Regions from separate parts of the Homo sapiens genome. Here region 2 is linked to region 1. The links come from fine-mapping of genetic effects on gene expression. A gene starts in region 1. The other region holds a variant in brackets. All regions are shown on one strand. Distances are between the middles of the regions. Region 1 holds the start of CASC18 (cancer susceptibility 18). Region 2 overlaps C12orf75 (chromosome 12 open reading frame 75).

Evidence for each region. PIP is the estimated chance that this variant, and not a neighbour inherited with it, causes the effect.
Region 2: its variant is fine-mapped to the expression of CASC18 in tibial artery (GTEx, PIP above 0.99).

Annotation. Positions count from the first base shown.
Region 1 is chr12:105,700,400-105,709,043 of GRCh38, forward strand. CASC18 (cancer susceptibility 18) reads left to right here and starts at 3,804. Exons shown (of 5, transcript NR_110109.1): 1 at 3,804-3,857. LOC105369959 (a long non-coding RNA gene) reads right to left here and starts at 7,628. Exons shown (of 3, transcript XR_945309.3): 1 at 7,551-7,628; 2 at 6,366-6,437; 3 at 4,717-5,167.
Region 2 is chr12:105,335,132-105,343,775 of GRCh38, forward strand. The region is part of intron 1 of C12orf75 (chromosome 12 open reading frame 75); the gene reads left to right. Among named protein-coding and RNA genes, the nearest start is that of C12orf75, 8.8 kb to the left of the region's middle. RefSeq lists an enhancer at 8,622-8,644. The variant T/A (reference allele first, on the strand shown) is at 4,306.

The DNA.
Region 1 (8,644 bases):
GAATACCCGAGGCTGGGTAGTTTATAAAGAAAAGAGGTTTATTTGGCTCACAGTTCTGCAGGCTATATAAGAAGCATGGTGCCAGCAACTGATTCTGGTGAGGGCTTCAGGAATCTTCTAGTCATGGCAGAAGGTGCAGAGGGAGCAGGCATGTCACATAACAAGAGAGGGAGCCATGTGACAAGCTCCCTCTGCACCTTCTGCCAAGATTAGAAGAGGGAAGAGGTGACAGACTCTTTTTAACAATCAGATCTCATGAGAACTAATATAGTGAGAACTCACTCATTACTGCAATGACAGCACCAAGTTATACATAAGGGATCCACCTCCATGACACAAACACCTCTTACTAGGTTCCACCTCCAGTGTTGGGGATCAAATGTTGACATGAGATTTTGAAGGGACAGATATCCAAACTATATCACAGGGTAAAGAGAAACATGTACCATGAGAAAACAGTTCAATCCAGAATATTACAAAATGGTCTGAACTCTTCCAAAAGTCACTGTCAAAAAAAAAAATGGCGGGCCAAAAAAATATAACATCAAATGCAATGCATGAACCAAGACTGAATCTTGATTGAGAAAAAAATCACCTCTAAAAGACAGTCTTGTGACGGTTGGGGAAATTTGAATGCTCAATATCAGATGTTATTTTAAAGTTACCATTATTTTTCAGGGTGTGAAAATGATATAGAGGCGTGTTCTTATACTCAGGAGGTACCTGCTGACATATTTATGGGTGAAGTGTCATGATATCTGCAACTTATTTTCAAATATTTAGCAAAAAAACAATGTATAGATGGATGATAGATGAATGGATGTAGATGCAGCTCTAAAAATAGCATGAGAAATAAGGTAAATACGACAAAATGTTAACAGTTGTTTAATTTAGGCAGTGGGTATTTGGTGTTTATTTTGCCATTTTATCAACTTATCTGTATATTTAAAATTTTAATATATTCCTGAATTATGTATTTTAATAGGATTTTGTACTTAGCTTATTTAGAAGGTACAAATATGTTTTACTCTACTTTAAGAAAATAAACATTAGAAGTTCTAGAATATATATTATCGGTATAGGTTATGTTAGAAAGAGTACTGAAACTCCAATCAGAGAACTTAAAGTGGAAAAAAATTAAAAAACCCTTTGGCTCCACATTAGAGGTCTGGCTCATGAATATACATTTATATATTTCAGGTTAAAATAAAATACTTACTGTATACATACATCACCTTTTAATGATTCCCAGATTGAGCTACGTTTTTCCAATGAGCCAACCAGCTACTAGTGCCAGTTAACTCCAGATGAGAGGGATTCCTCTGTATACTTTGTGTATGGAAAGAATGTAGCATCCAGCTAATAACTGGTTCAGTGATTGTGATTGGAATAGCCATCTGTTAGTGTAGTTGGGTATTCCAAGAGATAACAGGATGAGTGAAGACTGTCCTGGCCTTCTAGGGAGCCTCATGCAATATGGTGGCGAGAAGCCCAGGTCTTGAAGCAGAGGGACATGTGGTTAATTCCTGGAGGTATAATCTTGGGAAAATCACTTAACCAACATGAGCCTCAGTTTTCTCATATGAAGGATGAGACCTACCTCGCAGAGTTTTGGTAGGGCTTAAATGTGACCATGACTCTATAGCAACTGTATAATGTGGGTGCACCAGCAACAATGAATTAATTGTTGGTGGTATCATGTATAGGAATGTCTAGTCAGAGGAAGAGAGTTCTAAGGCTGTAGTTGCTGCTGAAGACACATAGTAAATAGGGGTTCTGCTGTTTCAAAAAAAATTCTAAAAGGGAGAAATGGGCTAAATTTATCAAGCATGCTTAAAAACAACCTGACTCATAAATTGGCTAGACCAATTTTCTACAAAAGATTCCCAGGATCATAGGCATTGGTATCACCTGCTGCACTTTTTCAAGATGTAGACTCCTGAGCCAAGCCCTGTACCTACTGGGTCAGAAGCTCTCGACATGAGGCCTGAGAAGCTTTATTTTAACAGGTATGAAAGCCACTGAGTGTTGAGACTGTCTACCCTGTTCACTGCTGTATTCCCTGCACCTAGCAGAATGTCTGAGGAGCTCAGTAAATCCTGGGTGATTAAATGGACGAACAGATGAATCAATAACATGACTCTGACAAATAGGGCAGAGTAGGAGTTCTGATTTCTGCTCTTTCTTACATATGCCTTAGGCTGCAAGTTGCCTTCTCCTCTCTTCTTTTTCCTTTTAACGCTGTCCTTAGGGTCGTCATCACCTGATTTTACTGCAGAGACTTGGTGAGGCAGAAAAAGGTGAACCCCGGGCTTTTCCCTGCCTGAGAAGTCCCAACCTGTGAGCTAGATTTATATACAGCAGTGGATTGAGCAGTGCTTCTCAATCCTGGCTGCACTTTAGAATGACCTGAGGCTTGGCCCGCACCCTAGACAAATTAAATCAGAATAACTGGAATGGAGGTCCAGGTATTGAAATTTTTCAAAAGCTCCCAAGTGATTCTGTTTCATAGTGAAGTTGAGAACCACTGGCAAACCATAATATGGATACCTCTAAAAATCTTAGTGTTGAGTGCAAAAGGTGGTAAACGATTTATAGCACGTTACTACTTAAGGATATTAAACTTTAATATACACACAAAACCAAGTTCTGTGTTTTTTGGAGATAATCTAAGGACATATAAGAAATCCCAGGAAGGAAGACAGGAGAGGGAAATGGGAGGAAACAGGAGCGAGAATAGAGAATAAATGGGGAAATATAAAATAAAACAAGACAGCGAGATTACACAGACCTTAAAGACTAAAAAGCGTGGCTCCCAAACATCAAATCACCATAGTTAGTATGAACAGGGCAGTCATGTGTACTAGACACAGTGTAATTGGTTTACACACCTTATGTCTGTTAATCTTCATAACAACTCTGAGGTAGGTGTTACTATTTAGAGTCATTTTATAGAGGAGGAAACTAAGGCTTAACCAAGATCATACAACTAGTAAGTGACAGATTTGGGTATAAGCCCTGTCTACCTGGATGGAGTCCAGGCTCTGTTTGCTCCATTCATCACCTCTTTGAGTCCTCTCGAGCACCTGCTGGAAAGAAAATGTCCTCCTCCCCAAGCCCACGTCTCTGCTAGGCAGCTCAGGAACCACCAGCACATACTTCATCCCAGCCCTTGCCAAAGATGGGAATGAGAATGACCATCCAATGTTCTGTGCCCAATGCAGAAGAAAACCTACACATACAACCTTCCTGACCTGGAAACATCCAAAATCAGCCTCAGTTTCCTAATGAGCCTTTCCCTGCCTGAAAAGTCCCAACCCGTGAGCTAGATTTATATACAGCAGTGGATTGAGCAGTGCTTCCCAATCCTGGCTGAAGACGAGCAATGTTTGTTGGGTTCAAGGAATAGAAAAAAGCCTCGCATGGCTGGAATAGAAGAGGAAGATGGTGGGTGCTGCAGCAGAGAAGGCAGGGGCTCAGAGCTCTTCACTTCCCACCAGACATTCCTTTTCCCTTGGGGATGGACTGAGCATGTGGAAGATTTTCCATGCAACTTCATATCCACTGTTCACAACACCTGCCTCTGAGGACGTGATCTTCCTACCAATCTCAGGACCTTTCAAAATTAATTATAATAAAAATGTATTTATTGAGGCAGGCATAAATATTAGTCTCCATTTTCTTCAGAGAAAACAGAAGCATACAGCGGTAGCTTGAACAAAATTTCCCAACCAGAAAGGGATGAGGGAGGAGAGACCGGAAGTACAAGCTCCTCTTATCTGAGTTGCCGCCGTCTAGAGGTGAGCTGATTTTCTGACAGCCCCTTCTCCTCTCCTCACTGGATATCCAGTTTCCAGGTAGGTCCTTCCAGGTAGGCGCCCCCCTGACCTCAATGCGTGCTCCAGCTCTGGGGTGCATTCACAGGGGTAGGACATAGAAGGTAAACTCTGACCAGCTGCATGTGCAGCTACCTCTGCAGAAAAAATCAAGAGGCGCTGGAAGCCCTTCTCCCTTTGCTTAACAACATCTCCCCTGCTGCCCCACAGCAGTATCTGAAGTTCCCCTGTTGGCTTATGGAAATAAAGGCTTTTGTTAAAATATAAATCTGTAATCTGACGGGATGTGAAAAGATTAAGGGACGGGCTGCCCAAACTTTACTGTGCTTGACACTCAACTTATAAGTGTATTGGAAATGCAGATCTTAGGTTCTTATACCACAGATTCTGATTCAACAGGCACCAAATGGGGCCCAGGTAGCTGCAATTCCAACAAACACTTCAGGTGTTTCTGATGCTCGTGTTCTCTGAATCTCGTTTTGAGAAACACTGTGTGACTATGAACTCTTCAATTAGTTAATGAGACTTGGCCCAGAGGTCAATTTTGTCTATAATGAAGCAGAGAGGAGAAAGACACAGCTGCTCCCCCTCTGACTTGGTCTTTCTCTGTCCCGTTCAAAGCTGTGTTCATAGCTCAGGGCTTTAAGAGAGAGTGTTCAGAGCCCTAACTCAGAAGGACCGCCTGGAGACCTGCCAGGGTTTTGCCTAGACACACGTCACACCTTTACAGGGGTGGCGAAGGCTTGTGCTATCTCAAGACCTCACGCAGTACTTCTCAGTTTAATGGGCCCACTCAAGAGGTAAACGTGGAAAAAGAAAAGTTATATGCACACACACCCACACCCACACCCACACCCACACACACACACACACAGAGCAATAAAACAGGAGCAATTTATTCATAAGATTCTAAGTCATGAATTGTCTCTACTTACAAAATATTAGCCTATAAATTATGATTCTGCCAAGCTTCATTTTGAACAAACCCACAATCTCAGAAACATCAGCAGTTCAACTGCAGAGAGAGATGATGAGGTGGCTTGAGAAGAGTGACAGAAATGTCTCTGGATGGGATTCTGGACCTTCTGGGAGGAGGCTTCTTTGAAGGCCACCTGGCGATCGCGTGGTTTCTGATTCTCCCCGTAGTGATCGTGCCTTCCCAGGTACTGAATGGATCTCTTTGAGCTCTTTGCGTGGCCGATGTGTGAACTTTTGGCATGGCCAGTGTGTTCAGTGGGAGTGCTGGGGTTTACAATTGGAGGAAGGATACCGACTCCCTTTATGGCTGGAGCTTCTTGGGATTCCTAAGTGTCACCTTGGTCCACAAGTAGCTGTTAAAAATTAGAAAAAAGTCAGCTGTTTGTCTTCTCATTCTTCTACAGGGCTCCCAGAGATTAAGACAGCCGAGCCTTCCTCTCCCTGAAGGGCCCATCTCTTTCTGAAATTTAAATAATTTGGGCATTTAAAAAAATGTACAATTAAATTATTATTGACTACAGTCCTCGTTTTGTGCTATCAAATACTAGGCGTTATTCATCCGGAAAAGTGATACTTTGAATTGTGGTGATACAGTGTTTCAACAGATCCTTATATCCTTCCAAAGTCTTGAATGCTATTACAACAGGGCGTCACATGAGGGCGCTCTAGAGAATCCGCAAGAGCAAATTCCGTAGTAAATGGGGAGGAGGGAGTTGTTATTAATAGATTTTACTTTTTAGTTTGAGTTTCCTTAGTCTAGAAGGACTCACAGAATTCCCAACTGTGCTTGCATGCCTGCTGTGCCCAGCGTGTGAGTGTGAGTGTATGTGTGTGTGTATGTGTGTGTGTGATGCACGCATGGAGGGGTTAGGGAGGATGCAGGAATAGAAGTTGATGAGGGACAAAGGGGAGGGAAAATTAAAATGATGAGCTTCAGAAGTCACCTTCTTTACAATTTGAGAGGCAATGTTCTGCTCCTATCTCTTGAAATGTCCTCTATCTCTTCCTTTCAAGGGAAAAAACACCAGTTCCCACCCAAGAGTTCTCCAGGACAAGGGAGGCCCTGGAGAAATGCAGTCAGAGGCAAATGGGAACAGATAGCTGCTTGTCAGCGCAGGTGCATCTCTTCCAGTCCACTTTGGCTGAGACTAACCTGACCTTGCTGAGCCCTGGCCTTGCCGTCAGCTTGCGCTGACAACAGGAGACCAGGCCACACTCTCCTAGCAGCTGCCCAGGCGAGGCTCATGCCCCAGAAAAAGCAGCTCCAGTTACACATTAGTCACAGAAATAACAATGATCAAAGGGAGCCAAAGGCATGAAATGGCTTCATTTTCCCAATTTAATTATGGGACTGGAGGATCCATTTCAATCTGGAAGGAGCCTGATTTCAACTTGTTATAAAATGGTTGGATAAAGTGCTGTATATTATTTTTTGTTTCTACCCTCATCCCTCCTCCCCATCTGCAATACAAGTTTTCATAGGCTTTTGAGTCCTTTTCAGCCCCTCCCTGTAGACGCACGATAAGAAACATAAATATGCCCCTTTCTTACTTGAGTCCTACTCGTGATGCTGATGCGCCCAATTAGAGTCTGTAGTTAAGGCCCCTGGGATTGTTCTGGGCCCTGGAAAAGAATGGCAGCAGGTGAGTGATGAGAGGTCCTCCCCCTCAGGGCAAGTGCAATGGCCTCATTGAGAAAGTATTCAGCCATCTGTAAAAAGGGGCCTATGGCAGTGGGGTCAGATGACAATGCCCCACATGCTTTAGTGGTTAAGATGCTTCAGTGCTCAGATGCTTTAGTGGCTACAAGTTTTTTACTGGGCTGAGAAAGATGTGGATCAAAGCTGTGTTCCAGGTACATGTGATGGGCTTTCTATCCCCTGCCACACACACCCACACACATGCACACACGTGCACACACACATATACACGTGGACCCTCTTGCCCCAAAGCCAGGCCTTGAGCTTTGAAAGGCTAGAGGCAAGAATTAGACCGGGGATGTGTATTTCTGTCCTTAGAAGTTGGCTGGCTGTTTTATACTTACTAAATGACAAAGTGTGATGAAATTGTTGCCTAGTAAGGACAAAGCCACAAGGTTTTTTTTTGTTTTGTTTTGTTTTGCAGAGGGGAGGGGAAGGGCAATGATGAGACAATTCTTTTTGGGTCAACCATCGTACATAGCACATAGAAGATTTGACTGGGACCACATAGTGAATGGCGTCCTTTAGAGCTTACATGGGCGCACAGAATCAGGCAGGGGCTAGAAGTCAGGGGTGCAGTTTCTAGACCAGCTCTGCCGCTGACTTGCCCTGTAAATTTGGGAGGGACTCCTCTCCACTCCGGGGTTCATGTTCTTCCTCTGGACTGGGCGATTTCTCTCTCTGCACCTTTTCGCTCCAAGGATCTACTAGTCCATGTCTCTCTGATGCTTAAACATCTGTGTGCAGCATTTTTAGGAGGCCTCTTTCCTCTGCAAAATAAGAGGCCTCTGCTCTTACATTACTTTGGGATATGTTTGGAATTTTACTTATTCTCCACAAGATTTAACTGTAGTACAAGGTGAGTCTTTTTCCTACTTCCCGGGAATTAACCTATGGCATAAATTACAGGCAGGAAATAGATGGAGCAGATAAACATGGAAGGCTTGCTTTCTTTTCCTCTTCGTCTTTCCTTGAACTTTTTTGCACATCCATATTAAAACCCGTTTCTGGCTTTCTCCCTTCACACTCCTACTTACGGGGTTTACAGAACGAGGATCTCTCGGCAAGATCAAACTTGGTCTCCCCTCATATAAAATTTGACTGAGCTCCTCCTCGTGAAATGGATTCACCTTTTGTACTGGGAAAAAAAAAAGGTTTTTAAAGTAGTTAAAGTAAAAAAAAAAAATAAGGACGGAATCTGCACGAGGCAAAATTACATTGATATCTTCTCTTAAACAAAGAGGATAGATTTCTTTACAAATTCTGTATGTCCAGATACCATTTAGAAGCAAACTCTGATTTCACATTGAGGCTGAAAATGTGTATACTCAAAGCTGATAAGAAGCCACACATAGAGTAATTTATGTCTTATATTTTATGTGATATACTTGACAACATAAATAATCACATAGGAAGGCCTCTGTTTAGCATTGGCAAATAAGAACACAGACTATTTATGTATGGGTGAAAGAGAGTGGAAAGAATTTTAACCTTGAAACTCCTTGTCTATTGACTATTTAGGATCCTAGTCTTTTTTTTTTTTTTTTTTGGAGATGGAATCTCACTCTGTTGCCCAGGTAGGAGTGCAGTGACGTGATCTTGGCTCACTGCAACCTCCACCACCTAGGTTCGAGTGATTCTCCTACCTCAGCCTCCCAATTCGCTGGGACTACAGGCATGCACCACCATGCTGGCTAATTTTTGTATTTTTAGCAGAGAGGGGGTTTCACCGTATTGGCCCGGCTGGTCTCAAACTCCTGACCTCAGGTGATCTGCCCGCCTCGGCCTCCCAAAATGCTGGGATTACAGGTGCCAGCCACCACATTCAGCCTGGATCCTAATCTTGAAGCTGGATATACAAGGAATTTTGTCCTCGTCACATTTAATATTTATTAATTTTTTAAAAAAGGGCAGCAGAATAGAAAATGGGGTTTTAATTTTGTAATATCTAGATTCACTTCTGGTTTAATAGGGTGGCACTTTTAGTGGGCATTAGAATCTCTGGGGGAACTTGTTTAAAATGTTGATTGTCAGGCCTCATCTCTCAGAGTGTTGATTCTGTAAGCTATATTGGGTGCAAAAATCTGTATTTTAACAGGCATTTCATGATGAATGATGTGCCTCTAGTCCG
Region 2 (8,644 bases), 370 kb before region 1:
TCTGCTGTTTATGTAACAATAGTCCGAGGGGGAGGAGCTTGATAATTATTTACCCTATTTTATCAGTGTATCCCAGGGAGTTAATACAATCCTTTTGGGCCCAATATTTTAGATTAGTTATGTCCTTGTCCTCAATTAGCTAGATAATTGCATTCTTTTGAGGTAGCTATATTGGTCCAGGCTTAATTACATCTGTAAATGGTTTGGTAGTATTGAAATGATACAGCTCTGTTTAGCAATAGTGCAAGATTTGTGGGGGAAATAATGTAAAAATAATACAAAATTTTGTTGATATCATTTTTATCTTGCACTACTCCCCTTTCCCCACAAGTATGTACCATCCTTCTTTCTATTCTTTAAACATGCTGAACTCATTCTTGTTTTCTCTCTGTGGGAAACACTTTTTTGCTGGAGAGCTGATACTATGTTTATTTCTTGTCTCCTTTCCCCTCCCCCAAATGGAGGCCTCATGAAAGCCTATACATTTTGTTTACGGCTGTATCCTCAGCCTCTAGACTAGTTTCCACATTTTTAATGGAACTCACTCTTGTTTTCTCTCTGTGTGAAACACTTTTTTGCTGGAGAGCTGATACTATGTTTATTTCTTGTCTCCTTTCCCCTCCCACAAATGGAGGCCTCATGAAAGCCTATACATTTTGTTTACAGCCATATCCTCAGCCTCTAGACCAGTTTCCACATTTTAAATGGATTTTTTGGTTCTTGAAATATATTTGTTGAATGAATGAGTATATTTGGGAAACAAAAAAGATTCAAAATGAAGTCCTAAGTTGGTGTGGGCACACTGTACTGATGTAGCAATTGAGTGAAGAAAATAGAACCTCAGGAAGTCAGGGAAGCCTGCATGGAGGAAGTGGAACTTGATTTGGGTTTGAAGAATAGCGTGGAGGAAGTGGAACTTTATTTGGCTTTGAAGAATAGGTAAGATTTGGATAGCAGAAAATGGAAGGCAGGTCATTTTTAGTGCTGTAGGAAGTCCTAGAGACAGAAATGGGCTTGGCGCATTTCAGGTTAGTAAGAAGTCTAGCCTGATTGGATGTAGTCGTTCACATTGGTTGCAGGGTATTGGGAAGAAAGAATGGTTAGGATACGGGACGAGGAGGACAGAAAGGCACTGAGGCCACAGAGTTGAGAGTGGGCTCTGCAGCTAAAAAGGCCAAGTACAAATCCTACATTTGCCATTCATCATTTGTATGACCTTGGGCAATTTGCTGAGGCTGTCTGTTCCTTAGGTTCCTTGACCATAAAATGGGGGTGTAATAAGAGAGCCTATTGTAGATTCAGTGAGTTAATGTGTGTAAAGTGTTTAGAACAGTGACTCGTATATTGTAAGTACCCAATATACTACTTGTTATCAGTATAGGGAAAGACACAGCTGGTGTAGAAGGAAGGCGTGAGCCACTGAAGGCGTGTACGTATAGAAGTGGCATCATTCACAGCTGCTGTCTGCGCTCAGAGAAGTGCTGAGGGCCTGGATCATGGCTGTGGGCCCTGAGGGGTAGAAGCGTTGAGGTCACAGATACGTGGAAGACAGTTGAGCTAAAGAGAGGCTGCAGATGTGGGATGAAGGAAGAGGGAGAGGTAAAAATTAAACTGTTAGAGCCTGGGTAACTGGAAGGAGGTTGCTACTCACTCTAAAAGTAAGGTAGTAAGGGGCAGGTGATCAACATACTCGACTGTACCATGTTTGAAGTGATGATGAATAAAGAGAGGTGTGGAGACCCCTCTGCTCAGGTAGTAATCATTGGTGAGACAGAACCAAGAAGCTCTGTGCATCATTCGCTTGCTGTGTCTCCCCAGAATTGATGGCATCCAAAGCGAGTGATTGATTTCTGCCATTGTCACAGCCTGGTAGGTTCTTTTTGCCCACTGCCCCAAACAAAACCAGCACGGGCCGGGCACGGTGGCTCACACCTGTAATCCCAGCACTTTGGGAGGCTGAGGCAGGTGGATCACCTGACGTCAGGAGTTTGAGACCAGCCTGGCTGACATGGCGAAACCCCATCTCTACTAAAAATACAAAAATTAACCAGGCGTGGTGGCGCACACCTGTAATCCCAGCTGCTTGGGAGGCTGAAGTGGGAGAATTGCTTGAACCCAGGAGGGTTGCAAGTGAGGCTGCAGTGAGCAGCCTGGGTGACAGAGCAAGATCCTGTCTTAAAAAACAAACAAACAAACAAAAACCAATGAGAACAGCAGTTTTTGTGGCAAATAAAGAGTTTAATCATTTCAGGGCTGGCCAAGTGAGGAGAGCAGAGAGAAATTTCTCAAACCTGTCTCTCTGAGAATTCGGAGGCTAGGGTTTCTTAAGGGGACTCTGGTAGGCAGGGGGTTACTGGGGAATTGGAACAATTGATTGGCTGGGGATGAGGTCATAGGGGCATCTAAAACATCTTTGGGCAGTAAAGTCAGTTCCCAGGAAAGGGTTGGTTCTCAGAACCAGGTGGCATCTCTTGATCTACCAAAATGTGAAATCTGAAAACTATGTCAAAGGCCAGGTCTTTAGGTTTCACAATACTGATGTTATCTATAGGAGTATTTGGGGAAGTTGGAAATCTTGTAACCCCTGGTTACGTGACTCTAGTGCAGTAAGCAACTTATAGGAAAGCATGCTAAACAATAGCGGGTCATTGTTTATGCCTATTTTTTAGTAAAGTTTAAGCCCCTACCAGAATTTTAACCTTGCCATATGAATGCAGCTTTGATCTTTGAACAAGGATGGGGTATGGTGGGGGGTGGGGTCAGTTTTCCTTGCTTCAAAGTGTAACTATAAACTAAATTCCTCTCATAGTTATCTTGGCTTCCATGTTAGAGTAAGAGAAAAAAAACCTATGAAATTAAAAGCAAAGCAAAATAGAGTCAGTTATATTAAATTTCTCTCATTATTTATAATTCAGCAAAGGCAGTTTTACCATGAGCCACTTATAGCTCCATATAGACATGGCTTAAATTTTATTATATCAGCTAAATGTCAGTGCACTAACTTATGCCTGTACTTCTTATATGGCTGCATTTATCTTTCATTTATTTATTTATTTATTTTGAGATGGAGTCTTGCTCTGTCACCCAGGATGGAATGCAGTGGCATGATCTCGGCTCAGTGCAACCTCCACCTCCCAGGTTCAAGAGATTTTCCTTCCTCGGCCTCCCGAGTAGCTGGGATTACAGGCATGCACCACCGCACCCAGCTAATTTTGTATTTTTAGTGGAGATGGGGTTTCACTGTGTTGGCCAAGCTGGTCACAAATTCCAGACCTCAGGTGATCCACCCGTCTTGGCCTCCCAGAGTGCTGGGATTACAGGTGTGAGCCACTGCGCCTGGCCATTTTTTGGTTTTTACTTGCCTAAAGTATAGCTGCTTGTCTTAGTTCATTTTTGTGTTGCTATAAAGGAATACCTGAGACGGGGTAATTGATAAAGAATAGAGGTGTATTTGGCTCGTGGTTCTGCAGCCTGTACAAGAAGCATGGCACCAGCATCTGCTTCTGCTGAGGGCTTCAGGCTGCTATCATTCATGGTAGAAGGTAAAAGGGAGCCATAGTGTGCAGAGATCACATGGCAAGAGTGGAAGCAGTAGAGAGAAGGGAGGGAGGTGCCAGGCTCTTGCTAATGACCAGCCAGCTCTCATGGAAACTAATACAGTTAGAGCCCACTTGTTACCACCAGCCATTCATGAAGGATCTGCCCCTATGGCCCAAACACCTCCCATTAGACCCCACCCCCATGAGATTTGGAGGGGACAAACAAACCAAACTCTAGCACTACTCAACAAGGACGACCTATAAAAATGAGATTTTCTATAAGAGCTTCCATTTTCATTGACATAATTTTATGTCAATATATAATTTTATATTTCTAGGACACATTGACCTGAATTTTTTTCCTCCATTATTTGAAGAAATCACTTATGAATCTGTATTTTTTTATTGCACTCTGAAAAATAAGCATTGCTTTGGATGAAGTAATGAGCTGTTGTTCCATTTCTTTTGGCCAAACCAAGACTATGACATAGTTTTATAACTATTGTGGGTCAGAAGAGCATAGCAAGCTGTCAAAATTAAAGAGAATTTTATTTATTTTTCTGCAGTTATATTTATATAGTTCTCGGAGGGACTGTTTCTTTTCTAAAACAAATAAGGAGTAAGACATTCTTGCATGTTTTTATTATTTCCCATAAGAACCATAGGCATTTATGTTTCTGATAATTTATGCTGAAAGAAGAGTGCTTTTTAAATCTTCAGTATTTTTTTTTTTTTTTTACAAATTCTTCACATACATAATTTTATT[T/A]CGGGTGTGTGTGTGTGTGAATTATCACCACTTGGTTTGAAGAATGTAACTTAATATGTAACTTAGCAATTCATTTACCTGTGAATATTTCTAGTATATTTTATAAAGTCTAGAGTCTATATAGTATGGTGGTCATAAAAGGTATTAATGGACTAAAATGTATATGACCTTTTCTTTCTTTCTTTCTTTCTTTTTTTTTGAGACGGAGTCTTGCTCTGTCACTCAGGCTAGGTGCAGTGGCGTGATCTCCGCTCACTGCAAGCTCCGCCTGCCGGGTTCATGCCTTTTTCCCGCCTCAGCCTCCCGAGTAGCTGGGACTATAGGCGCCCGCCACCACGCTCAGCTAATTTTTTGTATTTTTAGTAGAGACGGGGTTTCACTGTGTTAGCTAGCTAGGATGGTCTCGATCTCCTGACCTCGTGATCCACCCACCTCAGCCTCCCAAAATGCTGGGATTACAGGCGTGAGCCACCATGCCTGGCCCTTGTTTCTTTTAAAAGATAAAAGTATGTTCTTCATAATAGACTTTGGCATTTGGGAGGAAATACTCACATCAATAAATGTTTGAATCTGTATAATACTGAAGACATGCTGGACAGTATGATTCATGGTTTTTAATGTATACGACAGGCTGATTAGCTCTCAAAGGACCATCTGTCTGTAGGAACCAAGATATTGTGTCCATCTACTTAAAATTACTCAATGCAGGTGGGGCGTGGTGGCTCACGCCTGTAATCCCAGCACTTTGGGAGGCAGAGGCGGGTGGATCACAAGGTCAGGAGATCAAGACCATCCTTGCTAACACAGTGAAACCCCATCTCTACTAAAAATACAAAAAATTAGCCGGGCGTGGTGGCATGCGCCTGTGGTCCTAGCTACTTGGGACGCTGAGGCAGGAGAATCGCTTCGACCTGGGAGGCGGAGGTTGCAGTGAGCCGAGATCGTGCCACTGCAATCCAGCCTGAGCAACAGAGTGAGACTCCGTGCCCCCGCCAAAAAAAAAAAAAAAAAAAATTTACTCAGTGCAGTATCTTGTAGCTGGCTTGTGTTATCATTCACGAGGAATAAAGTTCCGTTTGTGTCGTGCATGATACATATATTACATTTAGTTTCCCTCCAGATACTCATTTTGCTCTGTATTTTAAAAGAGAGTATTTTTTGGAGACAGGGAAGGACAAAGATAAGAAGGTCTAGTGGGTTGAATGGTAGCCCCCAAAAAGATATGTCCATGTTCTCTTTTCTGCAGTGAGTGAATGCAACCTTATTTGGATAAAGGATCTTTGCAAATGTAATAAAGTTAAGGGTTTTGAGATGCGGAGATTATACTAGATTATCTGAGTAGGCTCTAAATCCAATGAGAAGGGTGTTTATGAGAGACACAAGATGAGAAGACGGACATAGAAGGGAAGGTGATGTGAAAATGGAGGTGGAGCAGAGATGATGGGGCCACAAGCCAAGGAATGCTTGCTGCACCAGAAGCCAGGAGAGGCATGGAATGGGTGCTTCCCTAAGGCCTCTGGAAGGAGTTTGGATCTGCTGAGACCTTGATTTTGTACTTCTGGCCTCCAGATCTATGAGTGCATAGATTTCTGTTGTTTAAACCACCCAGTTTGTGGTAATTTGTTACAGCAGCCATGTGAAACGAAGACAATATTTTTCTGCAGTAGTTCAGAAATGAGACAAAATCAGAATATAAGAAAATGTATTAAACTGTATACCTGGAGTATAAATAATTCTTTGCTTAAATAAACACAGCATGATGCAATCTTGGTGTGATTCATAAAGCCCTTCAAGACTGTTCAGAACCTTAACCACTACTAGGACACATACAATTTTTGTATGAAACATAAAGAATGTCTGAGAGGTTTTTTTTTTCCCCCGTTTCCTGACACCTAATTCTTTGACACCAAGTGTCCTGCAATTCAATTCAATTCTAACACTACCTGGAGTTAGTGTCAGCCTCCACAGGTTTAGTGGGTCGGTCCCACAAGACTGCCCTCCCTTCAGACTCTAGTTGCAAATATTGCGCTTCCAGGTTGCCACACTTCTGTCAGCTATAGATTTGGGGGTCTTCACAAATCTCTTCAGGCTCAATGATTTGCTAGAATAGCTCACAGGACTCAGGAGGACACTTTCCTCATGTTTACTGTTTGATCATAAAGGGTCTGAATGAACAGCCAGTGGAAGAGGTACTTGGGGAAGTCTGGAAGTGTCCCAAGTGCAGAAGCCTCTGGCCCCAGTGGAGTTGGGCTATACCACAGTCCTGATGGGTAGATAAGTTCACCAACCTGGAAGCTCACTGAATCCAGTAATATGGTTTGGCTGTGTCTCCACCCAAATCTCACCTTGAATTGTAGTAATCCCCACATGTCAAGGGCTGGGCCAGATGGAGGTAACTGAATCATGGGGGTGGTTCCCCCATACTGTTGTCGTGGTAGTGAATAAGTCATGAGATCTGATGGTTTTATAAATGGGAGTTCCCCTGCACAAGCTCTCTTGCCTGCTGCCATGTAAGATGTGACTTTGCTCCTCCTTTGTGTTCCACCATGACTGTGAGGCCTCTGCAGCCATGTGGAACTGTGAGTCAATTAAGCATGTTTCCTTTATAAATTACCCAGTCTAGGGTATGTCTTTATTAGCAGCATGAGAACAGACTAATACATCCAGTTATTTTGAGGTTTTCGTAGGTGCTGTGGTTTGAGTGCGTTCCCCAACATGTGTTGGAAATTTAATACCCAATGCAGTAGTGTTGGGAGGTGGGACCTAATAAGAAGTGATTAGGGCTTGAGGGCTCTGCTCCCATGAATGGATTAATGTGTTTAATCATAAATAAACTGGGGGACGAATGGAATGGGTTGGTTATTGAGAGAGTGGGCTGGTTATTGAGAGAGTGGGTTGCTGTAAAAGCAAGTTTGGCCCCTTCTTGCGCTCTTGCTGTCTTGCCCTTCTGCCTTCCCACATGGGATGAAGGAGCATAAAGGCCCTCACCAGATGTGAGCCCCTCAATCTTGGACTTCCCAGCCTCTAGACTGTAAGAAATACATTTTATTTTCTTTATAAATTATCCAGTCTGTGGTATTCTATAACAGCAACACAAAAAGGACCAAGACACAAGCATGGCTGGTTAAATCCTTTGCCACTGGTGATTAACTCAATCTCCAGCCTCTCTCCTCTCTCTGCAGGTGGCAGGGTGGAGCTCAATGTTCCAAGCTTCTAATCAAGGCTTGGTCTTTCTAGCAAACAGCCCCCATCCTGAAGCCATATAGGGGCTTGGCCAAGAGTCATCTCATTAGAAGCCTCACAGAGAGGCTCCTGTCACTCATCACTCAGGAAATTCCAGGGGTTTTAGGAGCTCTGTGCCAGGAACCAGGGGCAAAGACCAAATATCTTATGATGAAACTGCAATATCAGATTAAGTTTTTTGAATGTTTGAATAGATGGGATTTGCTATGCATTTTTAATTAACTGAGACTTCTGTCATTGAGACTGATGAATAAAATGTTAAAATCTTCTGAAATGTGGAAAGTAAAAGCTAAACAGAGCCAAGGTGAGATGAAGTGATACTGTAAACAACCAACAGTGATGGAAATGTCCTTCTTTACATTCTATTTACAATTTTTATTACTGAAACTGCATATAATACTTTCCTGAGAACAAACCTTTCCCCTCTCCATTTTTAGGAAGATATTTAAAATTATGATTATCATTTCTACAGTTTTGGGAAATAGTCATTAAATCTTTTGACCCCCTCCCCTCCAAATTATAATAGTCTCTCTATATTTTTTGGTGTGTTTTTTTTCCCCACAAGAAACATTGTTACCTTTTTTTCATTTCTACTTCTCCTGAGGCCCTAGGCCCATTGTATTAACCCACCAAGGTTATGTTTAAACAGTAAGGAGCCAATTTGGCAGGACATGAAGTGGTATTAGGATGAATGATGTATCCTTGTGGCCTGGAAAAAAATAGATGTAACATTATACATATTTGCTTAATAAATGATAAAGCACATGAACCACAGATACAGTTTAAAGCAAATGGGATCTTGCCACTATCTAATTTTGATCAAAGCACTTTTTGCATAATTACTTAGATTAGGGATTGCCATTTGGTTAATTACAATAAATATATAAGCAAAGTGTAATTAAAAGGTTGCAGTGAGGGTAATTTTATTTCTGATCATTTTATGATTTTATACTTTTACAGGACAAATAAACTTATGCTTTGCATTTTATGTACCTAGGTACTCTGATAGTTTTGTTTAGGGTTTCCAACATTTGCAACCTTTTTTTTTTTCTTTTGGGAAGTTGTGTGTTAGGGAGTCATATTCTCATTACCCTGG